Linked DNA regions of Homo sapiens: region 2 is linked to region 1. A link means that fine-mapping ties the variant in region 1 to the expression of a gene that starts in the linked region. Tissue or cell type: whole blood. Region 1 holds a variant in brackets; the other region holds the start of a gene. All regions are shown on one strand. Distances are between the middles of the regions.

The links. PIP is the estimated chance that this variant, and not a neighbour inherited with it, causes the effect.
Region 2: it holds the start of SLC39A9, and the variant in region 1 is fine-mapped to the expression of SLC39A9 in whole blood (TOPMed, PIP above 0.99).

The regions. Positions count from the first base shown.
Region 1 is chr14:69,437,324-69,442,843 of GRCh38, reverse strand. SLC39A9 (solute carrier family 39 member 9) reads right to left here. Exons shown (of 7, transcript NM_018375.5): 3 at 578-775. Among named protein-coding and RNA genes, the nearest start is that of SLC39A9, 41 kb to the right of the region's middle. The variant T/G (reference allele first, on the strand shown) is at 2,826.
Region 2 is chr14:69,395,878-69,400,637 of GRCh38, reverse strand. SLC39A9 (solute carrier family 39 member 9) reads right to left here and starts at 1,946. Exons shown (of 7, transcript NM_018375.5): 1 at 1,173-1,946. The coding sequence starts at 1,268. ERH (ERH mRNA splicing and mitosis factor) reads left to right here and starts at 2,339. Exons shown (of 4, transcript NM_004450.3): 1 at 2,339-2,407. The coding sequence starts at 2,405. RefSeq lists enhancers at 1,654-1,993, 922-2,121, 2,323-2,830, 2,831-3,339 and a silencer at 2,090-2,330.

The sequences.
Region 1 (5,520 bases):
GTTACAGACTACCTCATAATTTAATGTTCTTAAGCCAAGCATATTATTATGTAATAGCTAGCATACTAATGTCCTAGAAAATAAAATTCAACTCTAACTTGTTTAGGATTTAAATGTATTATCTCATTATTTAATGCACTGATAAAGACATACATTACTATATCACAAATTTGTTCTGATGTTTTAGTAACTGTATTTCAACAAAGGTGGTTTTCTCTTTGATCTTATGTACTATGTTTTATACATTTAAAAACAATATTCCAATAAAAGGTCCACAGTCTTTAGACTGCCTAAGGGCTCCACAGCAAAAAACTAAGTTAAGAACTTCTGCCCTAGACTCTCAACCAAATGTGACAACTTTAAGACAAGCAAAGTAATAAACCAATAAACACTTCTTTGCGCCACATGCCACAACTCACTAGCTCTCCCCACTTAGTTAAATGTTCACTAGAACCCAAGGAAGACAAGAGTTTTAGCACTAAATATGGCCACTGATACAGACTGAAATATTTGATCGTTTGTAACTTTCTCAACTGCAAATGTATTGCACTGCCCAGAAAGCCTTGGAGCCACTCACCGTCAGTAGAATGCACATGGGAGTTACCAATCTGGTCCACCAGCAACATGAAAACGAAGCCCAGAACGAGGGAAACACCAATATAGGCATGCAGCTGTGTGTGGTCGTGGCTGTGCTCATGTTCATGGACAACTGATTTTTCTGCTGCTTTGTCTGATGCAATCACATTATGTGTTTCACTTGCTTGGTGGTGTTTTCCTAGAGCAGAATAAACCATAAAGAGAAAATATGTTTTTCCCCTAAAAACATTTTCATGTAGGAGTTTCCATTCTTTGTATTTCAAGCTCTACTTACTTTACTGTAAAGACATCCACTTTTTATATTGTAATCCAGCCAATCATTAACTCCTTCAACTTAAAGTTCATGATGAAAAAATTCCCAAATGTCTTCTGCCTTTGGCATGCAGACCTTCTGACTGCCTATTATTCTCAACACCTGGGAAGTGGAAGCAAATCACCATGCAAGAAAGCAATCATATTCCCAAAGGGACACCATCCCCAAATATTCCTTTATCTGAGAAATTCATGCCAATCTCACCAGAAAATACACTGTTTTTTTCTGATGAAAATAGGCAAATGAAGAGCAGTAACAATGAAAATAATTGCAATCAAATTCATCTAGTTTATACCTAGGCTGAGATAAAAATGTAAAATAAGGAACAAATTGAGTAGAAAATTTTTAGCTTTATAAAATATCAGCAGACAATTGCCAGCAAGAAACCAAAAGGGCAGAGCAGTTTAAGAGGCACATCCTTCAGTCTAAATTCAGTTCTAGAAATATGGAGGTTGGGAGACTCTGAACTGCAGTAAATGATACCTGGCCAGCTGATAATCCCAGTTTACAGTAACATATTTGTCATTTAAAACATAAATGCTTCAAAAGGCCAAAAAGCTTATCTTTGCTATATTTCATGAATAGAGAATAACATACTAGACATTTATCATTTATAATCAGATTAAGCAGTTTAAGCCTTCTTTAAAAATTGAGACAAGGTCTCATCTTTCACCCAGGCTGGAGTACAGCAGTGGTGCAATTATGGCTCACTGCACCCTCGACCTCCCGGGCTCAAGCAATCCTCCTACCTCAGCCTCCCAAGTAACTGGGAAACCACAGGCAAGTACCACCATAACCAGCTAATTTGAAAATTTTTTTGTAGAAATGTGGTCTCCCTATGTTGCCTAGGCTGGTCTTGAAATCTGGGGCTCAGGTGATCCTCCCACCTTGACCTCCCAAAGTGGTGGATTACAAGTATGAGCCACTGTGTCCAGCCTAGAGATCCTGTCTCTTAAAAACAAAACAAAACAGGCCAGGTGCAATGGCTCATGCCTGTAATCGTAGTACTTTGGGAGGCCAAGGGGGGCAGATCACGAGGCCAGGAGATCAAGGCCAACATGGTGAATCCCCGTCTCTACTAAAAATACAAAAACTAGCTGGGCACGGTGGCGCGTGCCTGTAATCCCAGCTACTCAGGAGGCTGAGGCAGGAGAATCGCTTGAACCAGGGAGTCGGAGGTTGCAGTGAGCCGAGATCACGCCACTGCCTTCCAGCCTGGCAACAGAGGGAGACTCTGTCTCAAAAAAACAAAACAAAACAAAACAGTTTCACAAAATAATATCCAACCTTACAACAGTTACAATGTACTCTTCTGTTTCTTTCTCTGTCTCTCTCTCTTTCTTTCTTTTTGAGACAGGTATGGCCCTTTCACCCAGACTAGACTACAGTGGTGCAATCTCAGCTTACAGTAACCTCCATTTCCTGGACTGAAGTCATCCTCCTACCTCAGTCCCCCAAGAATCTGGACTACAGATGTGAGCTACCAAGTCCTGCTAATTTTTATATTGTTTTTGTGGAGATGTAGTTTTGCCATGTTGCCCAGGCTGGTCTCAAACTCCTGAGCTCAAGTGATCCGCCCACCTTGACCTCCCAAAGTGCTGGGGTTACAGGCTTGAGCCACCGTGCCTGACACTATTCTTATGTTTTTGAGACAGAGTCTCACTCTGTACCCAGGTTGGAGTGCAGTGGCATGATATCGGCTCACTGCAACCCTGTGCCTCCAGGGTTCAAGTGGTTCTCATGCTTCAGCCTCCCGAGTAGCTGGGTTTACAGGTGTACTACATGGTGAGTTCTTGCAAGATCTGATGGTTTTTAAGGGGCCCTTCCCCTCTTCATTTAGCACTTCTCCTTCCCGCGGCCTTGTGAAGAAGGTGCCTTGCTTCCCCTTTGCTTTCCGCCACGATTGTAAGTTTCC[T/G]GAGGCCTCCCCAGCCATGCTGAACTGTGAGTCAACTAAACCTCTTTAATTGACCTTTATAAATTACCCCGGCTTCAGGGCCTTTTGTGGTTACATATGAATTTTAGGATCGTTCTATTAAGGTTTATTTGGCTTACAGTTCTGCAGGCTGTCCAAGAAGCACGAATCTGAGGATCTCAGGAAGCTTCCAATCATTGCAGAAGGGGAAGAGGAGTCAGTATTTCACAAGACGAGAGAGGGGAGGGGTGCCATGCTCTTTTAAACAACCAGTTCTCTTGTTAAATTATAGAGGGAGAACTCACTCATCAGCAAGGGGATAGCACCAATATGTGCATGACGGATCCACCCTCATGACCCAAACACCTCCCACCAGGCCCCGCCTCCAACACTGGGATCAAGTTTCAACACTAGATGTGGAGGGGACAAATATCCAAACCATAGCAAATGCCACTGGAATTATGATAGGGGTTGCATTAAATCTGTAGATCACTTTGGGTACTACGGATATTTTAACAATATTAATTCTTCCAATTCATGAACACAGAATACCTTACTTATATTTTCTCCAATTTTTTAAATCAATGTTTTATAGTTTTCAGCATATAGATCTTTTACCTCCTTGGTTAAATTTATGCCCAAGTATTTTATTTTATTTTATTTTCTGATGCTATTATTATTTTTTTAAAAATTATACTTTAAGTTCTAGGGTACATGTGCGCAACGTGTAGGTTTGTTACATATGTATACATGTGCCATGTTGGTGTGCTGCACCCATTAACTCCTCATTTACATTAGGTATATCTCCTAATGCTTTCCCTCCCCCTCTGATGCTATTATGAATGAAATTGTTTTCATAGTTTCTTTTTCAAATAGTTCATTGTTAGTGTATAAAAATGCAACTGATATTTGTATGCTGATTTTGTATCCTGCAACTTAACTGCATTTGTTTATTAGTTCTAATTTTTTTGTGTGTGGAATCCTTAGGTATTTCTATGCATAAGATCATCTCACCTGAAAACAGAGACAACTTTACTTCTTCCTTTCCAATGTGAATGCCTTCTATCTTTTTTGTCTGCCTGACTGTTCTGGCTAGGGCCCCCTATATTTTATTTAATGTAGAGTAAAGTGACAGAAAAAGCCACAGTTAATCATACCTCTATAAAGAATCTGATACATGGCATTCTTACAGAACTGATAAAAATGAGTGGGATAATCTACATTGAGCCATGGCTGACAATAGCAGTTTTGACAATACATCACATTTATATTTTCATCTTTGACCCAATAGTCTACCTTCCTAAACATACCAATTCTAACAGTCCAAAGAATTTTGAGATGTTTTCAAATTTTGGCTGCACAGTAAAGTGCTGCATTACCCAACAATCTTTGAAGTTCTTAAAACTTGTTTCTATAGACAGTTTTTTTTTACGTGAAAGCTGATAATCATCTAATTCCAGTGATTTTAGAGCTATAATTACAGAAGAGTAAGAGGTTCCTTTTTACATTAATTAGTATTTAATAATGCTTATTAAAGCATCAGAGCACTTAGTTAACATGATATACTGAGTTCTGAAAACAATGTATTATAATTATAAGGTCCACAGAAGAACGAAACCATAGGCTGTAGTAACATGTATACAAACGTCTTTCTTGAAGTACGAAGAAAAGTTGTTTTGGTCTACAATAAAGAAAGAGGGGGGTCAGGCGCGGTGGCTCATGCCTGTAATCCCAGCACTTTGGGCGGCCAAGGCAGGTGGATCACCTAAGGTCAGTTGTTCAAGACCAGCCTGGCCAACATGGTGAAACCCCGTCTCTGCTAAAATACAAAAATTAGCTATGCCTAGTGGCAGGTGCCTGTAATCCCAACTACTAGGGAGGCTGAGGCAGGAGAATCACTTCAACCCAGGAGGCGGTGGTTGCAGTGAGCCGAGATGGTGTCACTGCACTCCAGCCTGGGTGACAAGAGCAAAACTCTGTCTCAAAAAAAAAAAAAAGGGTAAGGGAAGAGGGTAAGAAAAGAGAGAGTAAAGCAGCAAAAACAAAATTACAATGATATGTCTAAACTCATCAGTATGAAGAAAGATGTAAAAAATCTGGAGACAGCTTAGCTGAAAGGTAATATCATGGTTAAGTTACTTCACAGATTTTTTTGAGTTACTCTTCCCAGCACTTTGGGAGGTTGAGGCAGGTGGATCACGAGGTCAGGAGTTCAAGACCAGCCTGGCCAAGATGGTGAAACCCATCTCTATTAAAAATACAAAAATTAGCTGGGCATGATGGCAGGCACCTATAATCCCAGTTACTTGGGAGGCTGAGGCAGAGAACTGCTTGAACCCGGGAGGTGGAGGGTGCAATGAGCTGAGATGGTGCCACTGCACTCCAGCCTGGGCGACAGAGTGAGACTCCGTCTCAAAAAAAAAAAAACAAACAAAAAAACTTCTTTAACAGAGGTATTAACATTTTACATTTTAAAAGGAATGTTGGAGACATCTGATGCTGGCCATGTTACAGTAAGAGCATTTTGACGTCAATCACCCACTGATTACAACAAAAACTGGACAAAACACACCAAAAAACAACTACTTCAGGACTACAAAAAGTAAACAACAGCAAGTGAAGGCAAGGCAGCAAAAACTTCTAGAAAAACCCTGTCTTTCCGGCCAAAGGACCAGGAAAAGAGGTTGCTAAGAGGTAG
Region 2 (4,760 bases), 42 kb after region 1:
GGTGTACTTAATATTTCATTTATACCTTTCCTTTCTACTTCAGGCCTCCTTTGAAAGTACTTTCAGGAATGGCACTGAAACTAGGGCCTATTTTACTGCTGAACTCTAGGACAAACTCATGAAATCTTGTTCCCTTTGAATGTAGTAGTTTTTCCCCCCTAAATCTTTGAACGCTGTGCACTTCGTGAATTCCTTTTGCCTACCTAAAGGACCTATCAGCATGTTCACTGAACAGTGCTTTCATCTATCCCTCTTCCCGGGACCCTCGCTTAACATCTGTTCAAGGTGCCAATCAAATTAACGAAAATGTCAAAACGTATTAACCAAAAATTCATTGCTAAGCAAATAGATTTGAAACAACTTCAGAATATCAATTCCAAGGCTCCCCTTCTTTAAAAGGAAATGTGAGTTAAGAACAATCTTAGTTTTTTCTTACATTCATTCTAGTACAGACATCCAAAAAACAAAACAGCTTTCCTCAGAAAGGTGTGTTTGACTTTCTCAAAAGGAAGTTATCATATTGATTTCAGTTCATGTAGAAAAATAACATTCTCCATTTCTTTTTTTTTCTTTTTTGGAGACAGGATCTCACTCTGCTGTCCAGGCTGGAGTGCAGTGGCCCAAACACGGCTCACTGCAGCCTCAACCACTTGGGGTCAAGCGATCCTCCTGCCTCAGCCTCATTTGTAGGGACAAAGTCCCGCCACGTTGCCCAGGCTGGTCTAGAACTCCTGGGCCCAAGCGATCCTTCCACCTCAGCCTCCCAAAGTGCTGAGATTACAGGCGTGAGCCACCGCGCCCAGCCCTCCATTTATTTTCTTGATAACAATCTGGAATCTTGATTCCATGAAACCTCTGAGAATCAAAAGAAATGTTATGGTGCCTCTCTCCAGGTAAATGCACAGAACCTCAAATTTTTGTAAGCAATTCTAGGGGATTCAGAATACTCCAGGATCTTCCGTGGAATATCTATCCACCCCAGGTTAAGAATTCCACTAATGAATATGAGGTTTCTTTCTATTATTAAGTGTCATGTATCTTTTAAAAAAGATAGTCTTTCTTAATGAGACCTTCAGCTTTGAGATTTAACTAGGGAAGCAGCTTCCCTTTGCAACTAAAACTACTATCTCACAGCCATCCTGACAGCTGACAGAAAATTGAGAATTTCTTACCTCTGAGAAATTAACAGCCAAGGGAATGATTCCGGCCACGTAACATCCCACCAACATAGCCAGAGACAGCAGGCTAATGGAGATGAAATCATCCATTCTGCCCTCCTTTATTCACCCACAACCACTAGACAACAAATTTCCAGTGGCTTTAAATGGTGCTTAGGTTCTTTAAACAGGTGTGGTGGTTCCAAGAGAGTGGGCTTTCCAGTTCTTTAGGCCTTCCCACCAGCAGATGTGTTCACGAGGCACCTTCCTCTTGAACGTACCCGGCAACAGACCCTTTTTGCTGATATTAGCACCAGAGAAAGCTTACAGCAATCTAAGGTCCCAGGCTCTGGGTTCTCAGATGCCAGTCATTAGATTCTCGTGGGTTAACAGAGATGGGAAAAGTCAATGGGGAAAATGTGCGAATGATCGATTTCTTCGATTGTCGGATTGAGGGTGGCACAATGTCTTAGGCGGCGGCGGGTAAGTGACTCAAGCGAACCTGTTCGTTCCCTAGGCGCCCCTGTCTCCAAGAGGCGGCCCCGAAGGTGATCCGCCCCCCAGAGCAGGAAACCAGCCCACCAGTCCCAGCAAACTCTCCTCCGAGCCTGGGATGAGGAAAGGAGTCCTGCAGGTCTCTAACGATGGGTCCTAGGGGTTCAGCAGCAAAGTTGACACAAAGCTGTCTCTGCCCTATACCCGGTGCTGCCCATGGTACTGCACTCGACCGGGCCTTGACCCGGAGTCGCCGATACTACAGCTGCCATGGCCGCCAAGTGGCATCTCTTCATTCCATCCACTTCCGGATTGTCTAACCACCCCCTCCTTTACAAAGGCACTTCCGGGTTACAACCGACCTCCGGCCCAGGATACTTACGTTGCCGCCATTTTTGAGTAGGGCTAATGAAAGATGTCTGATGTCACTGTCTATACCGGTGATCACTTGAGCCGTATGTTTAATAACGAAAGTACGGAAGACAGCGTCTTGAAAAAAAATAATTCTTCCTAAAGCTTGGAAACTTTCCCTTACCTTTTTGCCTTTATCGAAGATGGCTGAAACAGAGTCAGTAGCTGCTCTAGCTGCCGGAAGTGACTGTGCCTCTATGATCCAAAAGGCTCTTTTGCGTTGCACTTTCGACGACTTCCGGCGGCTCCTCTCGCGAGGATTGGCTGTTAGCGGCGTTGTAGTTAAGCTCGTGTAACGGCGGCGGTGTCGGCAGCTGCTGTAGCGAAGAGAGTTTGGCGCGATGGTGAGAAAGGCCTCCGCGGCTACCCGAGTCCGAGTCCCCGGCCTCCAGAGCGACCCCAGCCCCATACGTTTTCCCCTCCCCACGAGCCCCATGCAGCGCCGCGTGATGCTCCCCGCCACTCTAGTCGGTGGATTGACCCTTCTTCCCGCCGCAGGGACGCCAGGCCTGACTCTAGGCCTCGGAGCCCCGGTCCGCCCTGCGGTTGCGCGCCCGCCTGCTCGCTCGGGTCCGGCGTGCCTTGGGCCTGAGGATGAACTCTCTCCCGATTGTTACTCGGTAGAGGGAGACGTGGGGGAGGTGTTTTGTTTTTTGAGATAGAGAGTCTCACTCTATCGCCCAGGCTGGAGTGCAGTGGCGGGATCTCAGACCCCTGCAACCTCTGCCTCCTGGGTTGAAGCAATTCTCCTGTCTCAGCCTCCCTAGTAGCTGGGATTACAGGCGCCCGCCACCTCGCTCGGCTAATTTTTTTATTTTAGCAGAGACGGCGTTTCACCATGTTGGCCAGGCTGGTCTCGAACTCCTGACCTCAAGCAATCCACCCGCCTCGGCATCCCAAAGTGCTGGGATTACAGGCGTGAGCCACCGGGCCCTGCCGGATATGGTATTTTTCCCTCCAAATGCTCTAGCCTGCTGTAGGAACAATGGGCCAGGGTTGTCTAACTATTCTCGAAGCTGACAGATCCAGCTATACCCAGCATGTGGGCCAGGAGAGGACGTATTTGCTTTGCAGTGTTTTTTCAGCTTTCGTTTTCCTGTGCTCTGCCTTTTTTTTTTTTTTCCTGTTTTTGAGACCTCTAGGTATTGCGTGTGGCGCGTCCCTCAGCCCTCGATCCTGTACTTATCTGTATTTATATCCTCTTGGGGCTGGAGGCTGAAAAGTAGGCTCAGCTCAGAGACCAGCTCTATTAGAACCCAACCGGGATGATCAGTAAGCTCCAATTCGAAGAAAGTGACCAAAACTGGCTTGAGAGGTGGTATAATCTGTAAAGAATTTGAGCAGGAAAGCATTGCCATTTAAAAATGATAACCACTTGACCACAGTTTTTAAAATGTATCATGTTATGTTCTTAGTGATTTTTAATCCTTGTCTTTGGGCAGTAAGTACTGAAAATAGTAAACTTTGCCCGGTGTTCATTTTAAGACTAGATATAAAAAGCAACATGCTGTATAGCTTTTTCCATTCTTACCCTTTCAAATTAGTCCTTTAATTTGCATTAGAATTGGAATACAATTATTATAGTAGCAGTTGAGATAGCTAGTGTATAGGGCAACCTCTGTTGCAAGAATGCACGTGGTTTCTACAAAATTATTTTTTCTTAAATGACTCGTTGAAACTTTTTGAGTAGCTAGCTTACAAAGACTTCTGTATAACAAATAATCTAATATGATGCTTTCTGTGGCTTTTAAATCGATTTAACAAAGGCTTTGACTGCTCAGGTTATTACAGGTGAGAGTTAATCCTTCGTCTCTTGTCACCAAGTTCCGTTTTTATGTCAAACCCTCTGAAACTTTTAGTCAAAGTGGTTTAGTTCTTGATGGGGAGAGAAGGGTATGATAACCCTTGGTTTTGCATGTCATGTTAAATGTACTATTTTTCCATTGTTTATTCAGAAAGTCTGGGCTTCAGCTATTTCTGTTCCAATTTGATGGTTAAAAATTCTGATCATTTTGTCCAGGCGCGGTGGCTCACGCCTGTAATCCCAGCACTTTGGGAGGCCGAGGCAGGCAGATCACCTGAGGTCGGGAGTTCAAGACCAGTCTGACCAACATGGAGAAACCCCATCTCTACTAAAAAGACAAAATTAGCCGAGCATGGTGGTGCATGCCTGTAATCCCAGCTACTTGGGAGGCTGAAGCAGAAGATTCGCTTGAACCCGGAAAGCAGAGGTTGCGGTGAGCTGAGATCGCGCCTTTGCGCTCCAGCCTGGGCAACAGGAACAAAACTGTCTCCAAAAAAAAATTATGTTATTCCAAAACAGTTTAGGGTTCCTGTTAGGAAATTTTTGTTTTCTGGTTTTTGGCTGAAAAATACTAGTACAGCAGAAGAGAAGGAAAAAGGTGAATAGTTTGATTTGGGACTGGATTTACAGTGGAGTTGCATCATACTTGCATTTAATTAACCTTACACATGTAGCAGAAAATTGGATGGGTCATATTTTCAACAGACCAGTGAATTCTCAGCTGGATGAGATTTTTTGCTCCCCAAGGGACATTTGTAACAAAGAATCAGTCAACCCAAAAGGTAATAGAGCCCACGTTGAGAAAACACTGAGATTGATTTGTTAGTGACTGATCACTAACAAAAACATGTTTCCCAGTGAGCACGAAGTGGAAGACAAGTCTGTCTGCTATG